Homo sapiens: one gene and its partner. The protein of the gene in region 1 purifies or fractionates together with the protein of each later gene. This does not show direct contact. Each region holds a gene or a part of one and is shown in the gene's direction. Other genes may lie near its edges.

The links. The genes of interacting proteins can lie anywhere in the genome.
Region 2: the proteins of PCDH10 (region 1) and TMEM63B purify together in Homo sapiens (affinity purification with mass spectrometry; one large-scale study listed by BioGRID and IntAct). This does not show direct contact.

What each region holds. Positions count from the first base shown.
Region 1 is NC_000004.12:133,186,769-133,192,128, forward strand, and holds part of PCDH10 (protocadherin-10 isoform 1 precursor), read left to right. Parts: intron 1-3,372; coding exon 3,373-3,392; 3' UTR 3,393-5,360.
Region 2 is NC_000006.12:44,143,922-44,149,281, forward strand, and holds part of TMEM63B (mechanosensitive cation channel TMEM63B), read left to right. Parts: intron 1-2,925; coding exon 2,926-3,006; intron 3,007-3,455; coding exon 3,456-3,579; intron 3,580-4,330; coding exon 4,331-4,464; intron 4,465-4,591; coding exon 4,592-4,729; intron 4,730-4,870; coding exon 4,871-5,024; intron 5,025-5,360. UniProt on the Homo sapiens protein: Mechanosensitive cation channel with low conductance and high activation threshold. Osmosensitive cation channel preferentially activated by hypotonic stress.

The sequences.
Region 1 (5,360 bases):
GTGCAGTGGCAAGATCTCAGTTCATTGCAACCTCCACTTCATAGATTCAAGCAATTCTTGTTCCTCAGCCTCCGAGGTAGCTGGGATTACAGGCCTGTGCCACTAAACCCTGCTAACTTTTGTATTTCTAGTAGAGATGGTCTTTTGACATGTTTGTCAGGCTGGTCTCAAACTCCTGGGCTCAAGTGATCCGCTCGCCTCAACCTCCCAAATTGTTGGAACTACAGGCCTGAGCCACCGTGCCCAGCCAAGAATAATAGTTATTCAGTGTTTAAACTCAACCCGTAGAAGGTTTGAAATAAAGCGGATGTGACTAAAACTTTAGTAATAGTATAAACTATTTCTAGGTTGGCAGGATTTTTGGCTCCTCTGTATCCTTGGGCTCCTTGTCTGTGGATTCAATCAACTGTGGATTAAAAATATTTGGAAAAAAGTCCCACAAAGTTTCAAAAAGCAAAACTTGAATTTGCCATGCACAGAGTACTGCCTTGAATTTATGTGAATGAAGTGATGTGCCTGGTGTTAGGCATTATATTAGATGTTGTAAGTAACCTGAAGATAATTTAACATATTTAGGAGGACATGCATAGGATATATGCATACACTACAGGCCATAAGGGACTTGAGCATCCTTCGATTTTGGGGGCAACCTGGAAACAGGCCCTCACAGACACTGAGGGATAACTCTTCATAAATGTAAGATTAGCTTCTTCTAACATGGAGGAAATCTTCCTTCCTCAATCTAATTAATTCTGACCTTCGGAACTTAGATCAGATCTAAGTTCAGATCTTATATTTGTCCTATCCAAATCTGCATTACTGAATTAACACATAGGTGGGAGGAAGTAAATTTAATAATAGGTGATTATATTATTCAGACAACAAGTACAATAGGTGAACTTTAAAAAAGAAAACACGTAACTCTAAGCAGCAATTAAAAGATGTCTTTTAAGTTTATGTTTATATTTAAGATATTGAGTATAATGTGTGCTAAGCTTCTGTGTTCTTAAAACTGTGAACCATTTTAATAATTTCTTTTATTAAAAAGAAACAATTTCTGTTTGTATCCTAACTAAATCAAGTGAACACATAATATTTATGTTAATGGCCTTTAAGCCATAAGAACTAGAAATGATATTTTTATTACTCTAAACATATGCTATGTTGACTACTTTCTGAATTTATACTAAAACATAGTTTTTCAGTATATTAGTTTTTTGACATAATGAATTAGTTATAGGTTGACTATAGGTCACTCCTGAGTTTCTTTTGTTCTTGAACTAAGAAAAGAATGTTTCCTCTAAATCAGCATTTTCTGATTTTTACTATTAACAGGAAAGGCCCCAACCCAGCTTATTTTGAAAGGAGTAATATTATTTGTCGGTGACAATATTTTCCTGGGTTGTCCAGAAAGCACAAAATCTTTTGTAATTAATAATAGTGTTTCTTTTCACTCACCAGTGGGTCCAGTTTAGACAACAAATTATTTGGTGACCGTAATGATTTGCTCTGATTTGTTTTATAAACTTGGACTTCTAAGGTTTCACTATTCTAATTTATTGTATAATTTTCAATTCTGATTGGTGTAAACAAATTTGTTTGAATTATTTCACATATAAGTTTCTCATGAAACAGTTTGAACTCAAGGACACAGAAAAATAGGATTTCATTCTATTAAAATAATAATTCCGTTTACTTGTAGAATATTCTCTGGAATATTATGACCTGGTTATAATGACTACCATATATTGTATCGAATTCATTTTATTCTTCTGGATATCATACATTACAAAATATGTTCTGATTACTTTCAATACTAGTTATTATACTACACAATACATGTAGATACTTATTTTCACTTTCATTTCTGTTGATGATGGTGCCTGACTGCTATGGGTTTTTTTTTTTTTTTTTTTTTTTTTGAGATGGAGTTTCGCTCTTGTCTCACAGGCTGGAGTGCAATGGCATGATCTCAGCTCACTGCAACCTCTGCCTCCTGGGTTCAAGCAATTCTTCTGCCTCAGCCTCCCAAGTAGCTGGGATTATAGGCGCCCACCACCATGCCAGGCTAATATTTTGTACTTTTAGTAGAGACAGGTATTCACCATGTTGGCCAGGCTGGTTTCAAACTCCTGACCTCAGGTGACCCACCCAACTCGGACTTCCAAATTGCTGGGATTACAGACGAGAGCCACCACATCCGGCCGACTGCTATGGTTTTGATTGATGTGCCTGCTAAATGGTGAACTAGTAAAGAACTGTTTCATGGTCAGAAACTGAGCTTTTGAGGAAAAATAAATTAGGATAAATAGATAATTAGATAGTCTTGAAATGAGTTGAAATACCAGAGAATAAGGTTGAGAAGATCAACATGTTCTTATCTTTGTTTAAAAAAAGCAACCATTTATGAGATTAAAATAATTGTTTTGCTATTTAATGTACTTTGTAACTTTTAATGAGATATGTGAAAATTTAATCTAAATTCAACTAGCTTTATTTTCAACACATTTTTGTTATATGTCTGTTATGTGCCATATACTGATAGATATGATGCAACTTCTGCTCTCATTGTGCTTATGGTCAAATATTACAAAGTTTATGGATAAGGGAAGAAATATTATTTATCATTACAAATAAACAAAATACTTAAAATTATGAAATCTGGGCAATCAAATCTGGGCATTCTGCTTTGTAATTTAATATATTTTATACAACTAGAGCAAATTTGATAATATCTTTCTCCCCTTTGCCTTTATTAATTCCTTTATGAGAAAATGGATTCTCATAGTAAGAATACTTTAAAAAAATGTATGGGCCATAAAAATACTTGGTTTTAAAATTTTATAAATGAGATTAAATAAACCTAGAAAATGTGAGTCATCTTTAAATTATTTAACTACATAAACACTTTCTGGTACAGTTTTCCATAATAAATATTGGTTTAATATGTATAATTTATAGTTTATGAAATTAAATATAAAACAAGTTATTTATAGATTTTGCTAGAAACTTTTTCTAGAAATGTAAGGGCCACACATTTTTTTCTATACTCTGTGCATAAATAGTGAAGTGTAGGGATTGTTTTATGTAGATAACTTTAAAAAGTTAATCTTCACAAATTTCATCTTTGGTATATAAAATGTACATTTCCCATGCAAAACTAATTTATAAGAATATCAAAATTATCATTCTCAGAAAACCAAACAACAGAATGGCTGTGACTACTAGCAGTGAAAAAGTTTGACACTACATGTGTTTGGTATGAGGGTACAACTAGTTTCTAACTGTATTCTTTCTTTTACAATAATGTGTAATTCTAAACTCCAAAAGTCAACCTCTTTTTCTTAGAGTATTTTTCTTTCTTTTTCACAGCACGGAAAAGGATATGCTAGTCAATTCTACAGGACTTACCTGAAGCAGCATGATTTGCACAAAGTCGACCAACAAAAGCATCAACTTTTCAACTTCATTATCTTGGCCATCCAGTTAGTCATGTGTAACTGAGTATTAGATTTCGGATGGAGTCATCATGGCCAATTATAGGACCTAATTGCTCTCAGCAGGCCTGAGAAATGAGTTGAAATGTGCAGAACTGTAGAAACTTTAGAGGCAACAGATTTTGCCTCCCCGATCAGTGTGTGCCTGTTTACAGCACTATCTATCTTTCTCTCTCCAAATGTCACTGAGCCCTTTAGATGTTTATATTCACCACGAGAAGCCAGTCATAAAGATAAAGGAAATTTGTGCATTATAAATGCAATATCACTGTTTTAAACTTGACTGTTTTATATTATTTTTGTGTGATCAAGTGTTCCGCAAGCTATTCCAACTTTACAAGAGAAATTGTGATTATGTTCTTTTCACCTGTGGGTTATAAAAAATGTTGTATTCTGAAGACCCACAAAATATCAAAGACATTCTGTAGTTTATACACCGTGTTGCAAAGTGTTTACTGTACTATTTCAAAGCTTCTAAATAAATATAAAATATATATATTATATTATATAATTTTCCTAAAATGTGGTACAACTCAGTTGGTTTTTAAATGGATGCATACAGTCCACATCATACAATAAAATAAAAGGTAATTCAGGGTCCCAAAGACAAACTTACTAAGAAAAAATCATTAATAGTTTTCTCCCAATTTCCATATCTTACTCAACCGTGTTTTTCCTTGTTTAAAAGAAAATGATGCTCTAAGCTACAAAATTTTGTCAAAAACTCATATTGAATTTTCAATGCCAAAGATGTAGCTATTGATGTTATCAGACAGAGCACTGACTATGTACTATCAAACTATCTAACAATCTGCATAAGTCTGATTCTATTTCTATGACTTTGAATTTAGAATCACTTAAAGCTTTTATAAAGAATCGATAAATTCACCTGTATTTGTTGTTAGAAAAAAACTGGGTGTCTGTACATTTTGTGGTGTAAAATATGTAATTGAAGATTACTATTTTAAGAAGTCATCAGTCATATCACTCACACAGAATTTTATTTTACATAGTTTTGTGACTTAATTACACATGAATATAAAATCTATAATTCTATATGAATATATAGAGATATAGAAACATCTGAACTGGTAAAGAATAACTATAAAATATGAAAGCTCTAAATTTAAAATAAATTTAGAGATAGAATCATGGTACATTATTGTTTCAGTATTCCATGTGAAAATTTTATAGCTTAAATGTAGTCAGTGTTTGATTAATGAAAAAATTCTTCATGAGTCAGCCTTCAAAAGTTAAGCTTGCCTTTTACTTTTATGTCAACAATATTAATTATTAAATTTAGTAAGACGCACTTTCCTTTCTTTTATATATTTTTTCTACTGTTGTGTATGCCTTGTTAGAACACATTCGAGAGAGGAAAAAAATCAGAGAATATAAGATAATCTTTCAAGCAAAAAACAGAATTGTCACAGCTCCCCTCGCCCTCTAAACTATGATATCAAAACATCATATCAAAGCTTCAACATTATATCAAAATGTTTGCCCAGTTCAAATTAGAAACCTGTTTTGAAATACTTTCCTTAATTTTTAACTGATCTTATATTCAATGACAGTTTGAGCTGCACTGTGTTATTAAAGAATAGACTAAAACTTAACATTTGACAAATGTTCTTCATCAAATTTTATGTAACTTAAGTGGAAATTTTTCCCTAGATTTAACTTTAAAATACATATATATACACACACACACACACACACACACACACACACTTAGGTCCTGATATGTACATTTAGAGTGATATATTGGTATCACTCATTTGACTGTTATCAAATTAGATATTAATATATCATATTCCAATCAGTTCATATATCAAAATAATGTATGTAATGTTCCAGCCTTTT
Region 2 (5,360 bases), on another chromosome or scaffold:
TTGTATACCTACTATGTGCTTCATGCCTGGGAGACAGAGTATAATCAGACCTGATCAGTGCCCTTGGGAAGCTGAAGATCCTAGTTGTGTTTCAGGGGTTGGTCTATAGTTTTGTTTAGGAGAGGTCAGCCTATAAGCAGGGGTAAGGGAGACTCTAGTCCTAATTGGAGTTTTTTGGATCACTGGGATGAGCATTATGGAGTAGCCATTTCATTGATCCGCTCATTTACCACATGTGTATTGAACACCTGCTATATACAAGCTGTTGGGACAGGGCTGGGTATATGGTGAGGACTAAGAGACAGCGCTTGAGCTCATTGTCAGGATTAGGCAGGGCTTGTGGTCCAAGTCTGCAGTCTGTCTGGATTGGAAGACTGTCTCAGCACAATTAGGAAATATCTTGCATGCAAATCAACGGGCCTGTGTGGTTGGATTTAGAGGATTAGAGATGAGTTTAGTGAGAATGAGAGCTCACCCTTCCAAAGGGGAAACCTCAAATGGTTTGAGGAACAATATCAGAGGAAAGGTCTCTAGCCTCCTGGGAAGTACATCTCAAGGACCCTATCCCAGATTTAAGTTTCTAAATTCTCATGGGTTTATGAGGACTATCTTAATACTTTAGAACAGTAACTCATGCATTCAATACTTGGTGGTCCTTCATTTAAAAAAAAAAACAATTTTTTTTGAGACAGAGTCTCACTCTGTCTCCCTGGCTGGAGTGCTGCAATACAGGGGCGTGGTCATAGCTCACTGCAGCCTTGACCTCCTGGGCTGAATCGATCCTCCTGCCTCAGACTCCCGAGTAGCTGGAACTACAGGCACTCACCACCACACCTGGCTAATTTTTTTTTCTTTTTTTAGAGACAGGGTCTCACTATGTTGCCCAGGCTGGTCATGAACTCCTGGCCTCAAGCAATCCTCCTGTCTCAGCCTCTCAAAGTTTTGGGATTACAGGCATGAGCCACTGTGTTCAACCTAAAAATTTTAATAAAATATAAAAAGATGGGGACTCAGTCTAGATTAAGGATTAGGATCAAAGAACAGTGCATGATCAGATTTAAAAACGAACTACTGGCCAGGTGCGGTGGCTCACACCTGTAATCCCAGCACTTTGGGGAGCCGAGGTGGGTGAATCACAAGGTCAGGAGTTCAGGACCAGCCTGGCCAAGATGGTGAAACCCCATCTCTACTAAAAACATAAAAATTAGCCAGGCGTGGTGGCATGTGCCTATAATCCCAGCTACTGGAGAGGCTGAGACAGGGGAATCACTTGAACCCAAGAGGTGGAGGTTACAGTGAGCTGAGATTGCACCACTGCACTCCAGCCTGGGCGACAGAGCAAGACTCCGCCTCAAAAAAAAAAAAAAAAAGCTATTAGGCTGGGTATGGCAGCTCATGCCTATAATCCCAGCACTTTGGGAAGCCAGGGCGGGCCAATCACCTGAGGTCAGGAGTTCGAGACCAGCCTGGCCAACATGTTGAAACCCTATCTCTACTAAAAATACAAAAAAAAAAAAAAAATTAGCCGGGTGTGGTGGCACACACCTGTAATCCCAGCTACTCAGAAGGCTGAAGCACGAGAATCACTTGAACCCGGGAAGCAAAGGTTGTAGTGAGCCCAGATCACACCACTGCATTCTAGCCCGGGTGACAGAGTGAGACTCCGTCTCAAAAACAAAACAAAACAAAAACAAAAACAAAAACGAAACAAAAAACAAAAAGAAACTATTCCCTCCAGCCATGGTGGCTCACTAGTGTAATGCCCACACTTTGGGAAGCTGAGGCAGGATGATCACTTGAACCCAGGAGTTCAAGACCAGCCTGGGCAATACAACAAGACCCCATCTCAGAATATTTGAAACAAACAAACAAACAAAAAAATGAACTATTCCTTCACTCAGCAAGCATTCTTCAAGCCTTGCCTGGTACCAGGTACTAGTGAGTCAGTGCCAGTTTCTCTCTGGTCAGTCTTAAGTCAAGGTAAGGATGAATCTGGGGTCAGGGTTAGGAGGTCAGTCTTGGGTCTGGGCAACAGGTCTGGGGTCAGTCTTTGGCCAGGGTGGGCTTAAGGGTCAGTCTTTGGCCAGGGTTACAGGTCAGTCTCACCCTGGTCAGGGGTCAGGATCAATCTCTTGTCTGTCTTGGGCCAAAGTTAGAGATCATTTTGTAGACTGGGTTATGGGTTGGTTGAGGTCAGTCTGTGGTCAAGGCTAAGTGTTGGGCTGTGACCAGGTCTTCTGGGAACAGGGTTAAGGAATTATATAGCCTATGACTAGATGCAATTTTTTTCAACCTAAAGGTCACAGCCCTGGACAGGAATCAGACCATAGCCCTGGCTTCCCTACCTGCATGCAGTATGTCCCTACACATCCTGGTTTGTTAGCCCAGCCTGCAGTCACACAGTGCTCAGGCCTTCTGCTCCCACTTCCCCACTCAGATAAGCATGAGGAGGAACTCCAAAGCTTTATTCTTGGGGAACTCTCAGTTTTGTAGACTAAGAAAAAGGCAGCTTGAATTGGAGATGTGGGTTTTTTTGTCTTTTTTTTTGAGATGGAGTCTCGCTCTGTCGCCCAGTCTGGAGTGCAGTGGCGCGATCTTGGCTCACTGCAACCTCCACCTCCCGGGTTCGAGCAATTCTTCTGCCTCAGCCTCCTGAGTAGCTGGGACTACAGGCACGTGCCACCATGCCCAGCTAATTTTTGTATTTTTAGTAGAGACAGGGTTTCACCATGTTGGCCAGGCTGGTTTCGAACTCCTGACCTCAGGTGATCCTCCCGCTTCGGCCCCCCAAAGTGCTGGGATTACAGATGTGAGCCACCACGTCCAGCCAGAGATGTGTTTCTTGAAGGTGATGGGGTCATGGATGAAAGTCAGGGGCAGGTGGGTGGGGTCCCTGCACAAGATGATACATGAACTGTGTTTCAGGGAAGCCTACCCCAACTGCACAGTTCTCGAAGCCCGCCCGTGTTACAACGTGGCTCGCCTAATGTTCCTCGATGCAGAGAGGTAAGGGACTGGGGGCAGAGGAGGGTGACACCAAGGGCCCCCTGCCATTGTGGAGGACATCTTGGCTACCACACAGGCTCCCCTTCTAGATTTTTTCCTAGGGCATTTGATTTTAATTCAACTCGTTGGTGTGCCTGTTAATTCAGCTCTGGAAAGAGCAAGGCCTGGAGGTTAGAGTTTGTTGTGAGGGGAAGGGGGGCCCATGGTCCCCACTGCATCTGAGGACATGCCCTTCTTTGGCTACAGTATGAGAAATTTAGGTCAGCCTGCAGGAAGAACTTCTGGCCCTCTAGGGATGGGTGGGGAGACCTTGGGATGTGGCCACATCTGAAACATGTATCCTAAACAAGAACAAGACAGCTCCTGTCCTTGGGGAGTGAGCTAGATGACCCCCAAGCTGAGCCAGCCCCAGCCCCAGATGTAGGTGACCAGGCATCTGGGTCCCACAGGAAGAAGGCCGAGCGGGGAAAGCTGTACTTCACAAACCTCCAGAGCAAGGAGAACGTGCCTACCATGATCAACCCCAAGCCCTGTGGCCACCTCTGCTGCTGTGTGGTGCGAGGCTGTGAGCAGGTATGACGCGGGCTGGCTGTTGAGTCGGGAGAAGTTGGACAGGTCCTGGGCAGGCAAGGCTGGGGCCCTGCCCTCAGTGAGTCCCCACCTGTCCCTGGAATCCTTGAAGCCTCAGTTCCCACTGTTGGGTTTGTCTAATGTCCCTACAGTGACCAGGTTTTCAAACCTCAAATTAGAAAATGTCAGCCAAAAGGACAATGTTGTGCTGTACCCACTGACTCTGGGGACTTGAGCAAGTTGCTTACTGCTCAGTGCCTCAGTTTCCTCATGGGGTTAACGTACCCACCTTATGAGAGTGTTGTGAGGGTAAAGTGAGTAATACATATAAAGAAGCTTAGAGGTGCTGGGTGCGGTGGCATATGCCTGTAATCCCAGCACTTTGTGAGGCTGAAGCAGGTGGATCACTTGAGCCAGGAGTTTGAGACCAGCCTGGGAAACATGGCAAAACCTGATCTCTACAAAAAATACAAAAATTAGCCAGGCATGGTACTGCACACATGTATTCCCAGCCACTTGGGAGGCTGAGGTGGGAGGGTCACTTTAGCCTGGGAGCTTGAGGCTCCAGTGAGCTGAGATTCCACCACTACACTCCAGCCTGGGCATCAGAGCGAGACGCTGTTTCCAAAAAAAAAAAAATGCTTAGAGGAGCAGTGCCTGGCTTGTAGGAAGCCCCAAGTCAGCGTGGGCTGGATGCTGCAGGCCCCAGCCTGGCTTTCCAACTAGAGGCCCTGTCCCTAACCCTCCCACAAAGGTGGAGGCCATTGAGTACTACACAAAGCTGGAGCAGAAGCTGAAGGAAGACTACAAGCGGGAGAAGGAGAAGGTGAATGAGAAGCCTCTTGGCATGGCCTTTGTCACCTTCCACAATGAGACTATCACCGCCATGTGAGTCCCCAACTCGGCCCTCGGCCCTGAGCAGCCCTCCAGGGCTCCCTGACCCCTGTGCTCATGGCCTTCTGCCAGCAGTGTGGCCTCCAGGTGGGCCTGTGGTAACCAGTGCCCATCTTTCTAGCATCCTGAAGGACTTCAACGTGTGTAAATGCCAGGGCTGCACCTGCCGTGGGGAGCCACGCCCCTCATCCTGCAGCGAGTCCCTGCACATCTCCAACTGGACCGTGTCCTATGCCCCTGACCCTCAGAACATCTACTGGTGAGCAAACAGGTGTCAGGGCAGGCTTTCCAGGGCCTGGGATGGGCTCAGTAGGTAGGCGGAGGAGAGGGAGTGTCTTGGTGTCACTGGGGGCCAATCCTGCCCTTGGTTCCTGGACTGACCGGTTCCCCACCTTGCCAGGGAGCACCTCTCCATCCGAGGCTTCATCTGGTGGCTGCGCTGCCTGGTCATCAATGTCGTCCTCTTCATCCTCCTCTTCTTCCTCACCACTCCAGCCATCATCATCACCACCATGGACAAGTTCAACGTCACCAAGCCTGTGGAGTACCTCAACGTGAGGCCTCATGCCCCTGTCACTTTCCACGCTGGGTCACAACACACAGATACCAGGCCCTGATCCCTCTTCCACTTGCCCAGCCCAGCCCGTTCTGCTTGTTCCAACCCCGTGCCACCAACCAGCTCCCAAAAACCCCTGTGTGCACTTCCCTTGGGCTCCCTGCCACCTTCCCCCTGAGAGAGGCCACCCTCAGGTGTGCAACACCTGGAGAAACACCCAGGGAAGAGAGAGAGCCTGCATTTAGTCCTGATCTCAGAGAAGTCCCCTTCCCTCACCCCTCAGTCTAACTGAAAAAATGGAAAGGTTCAACTAGATCAGTGGCTTTGGACTTGG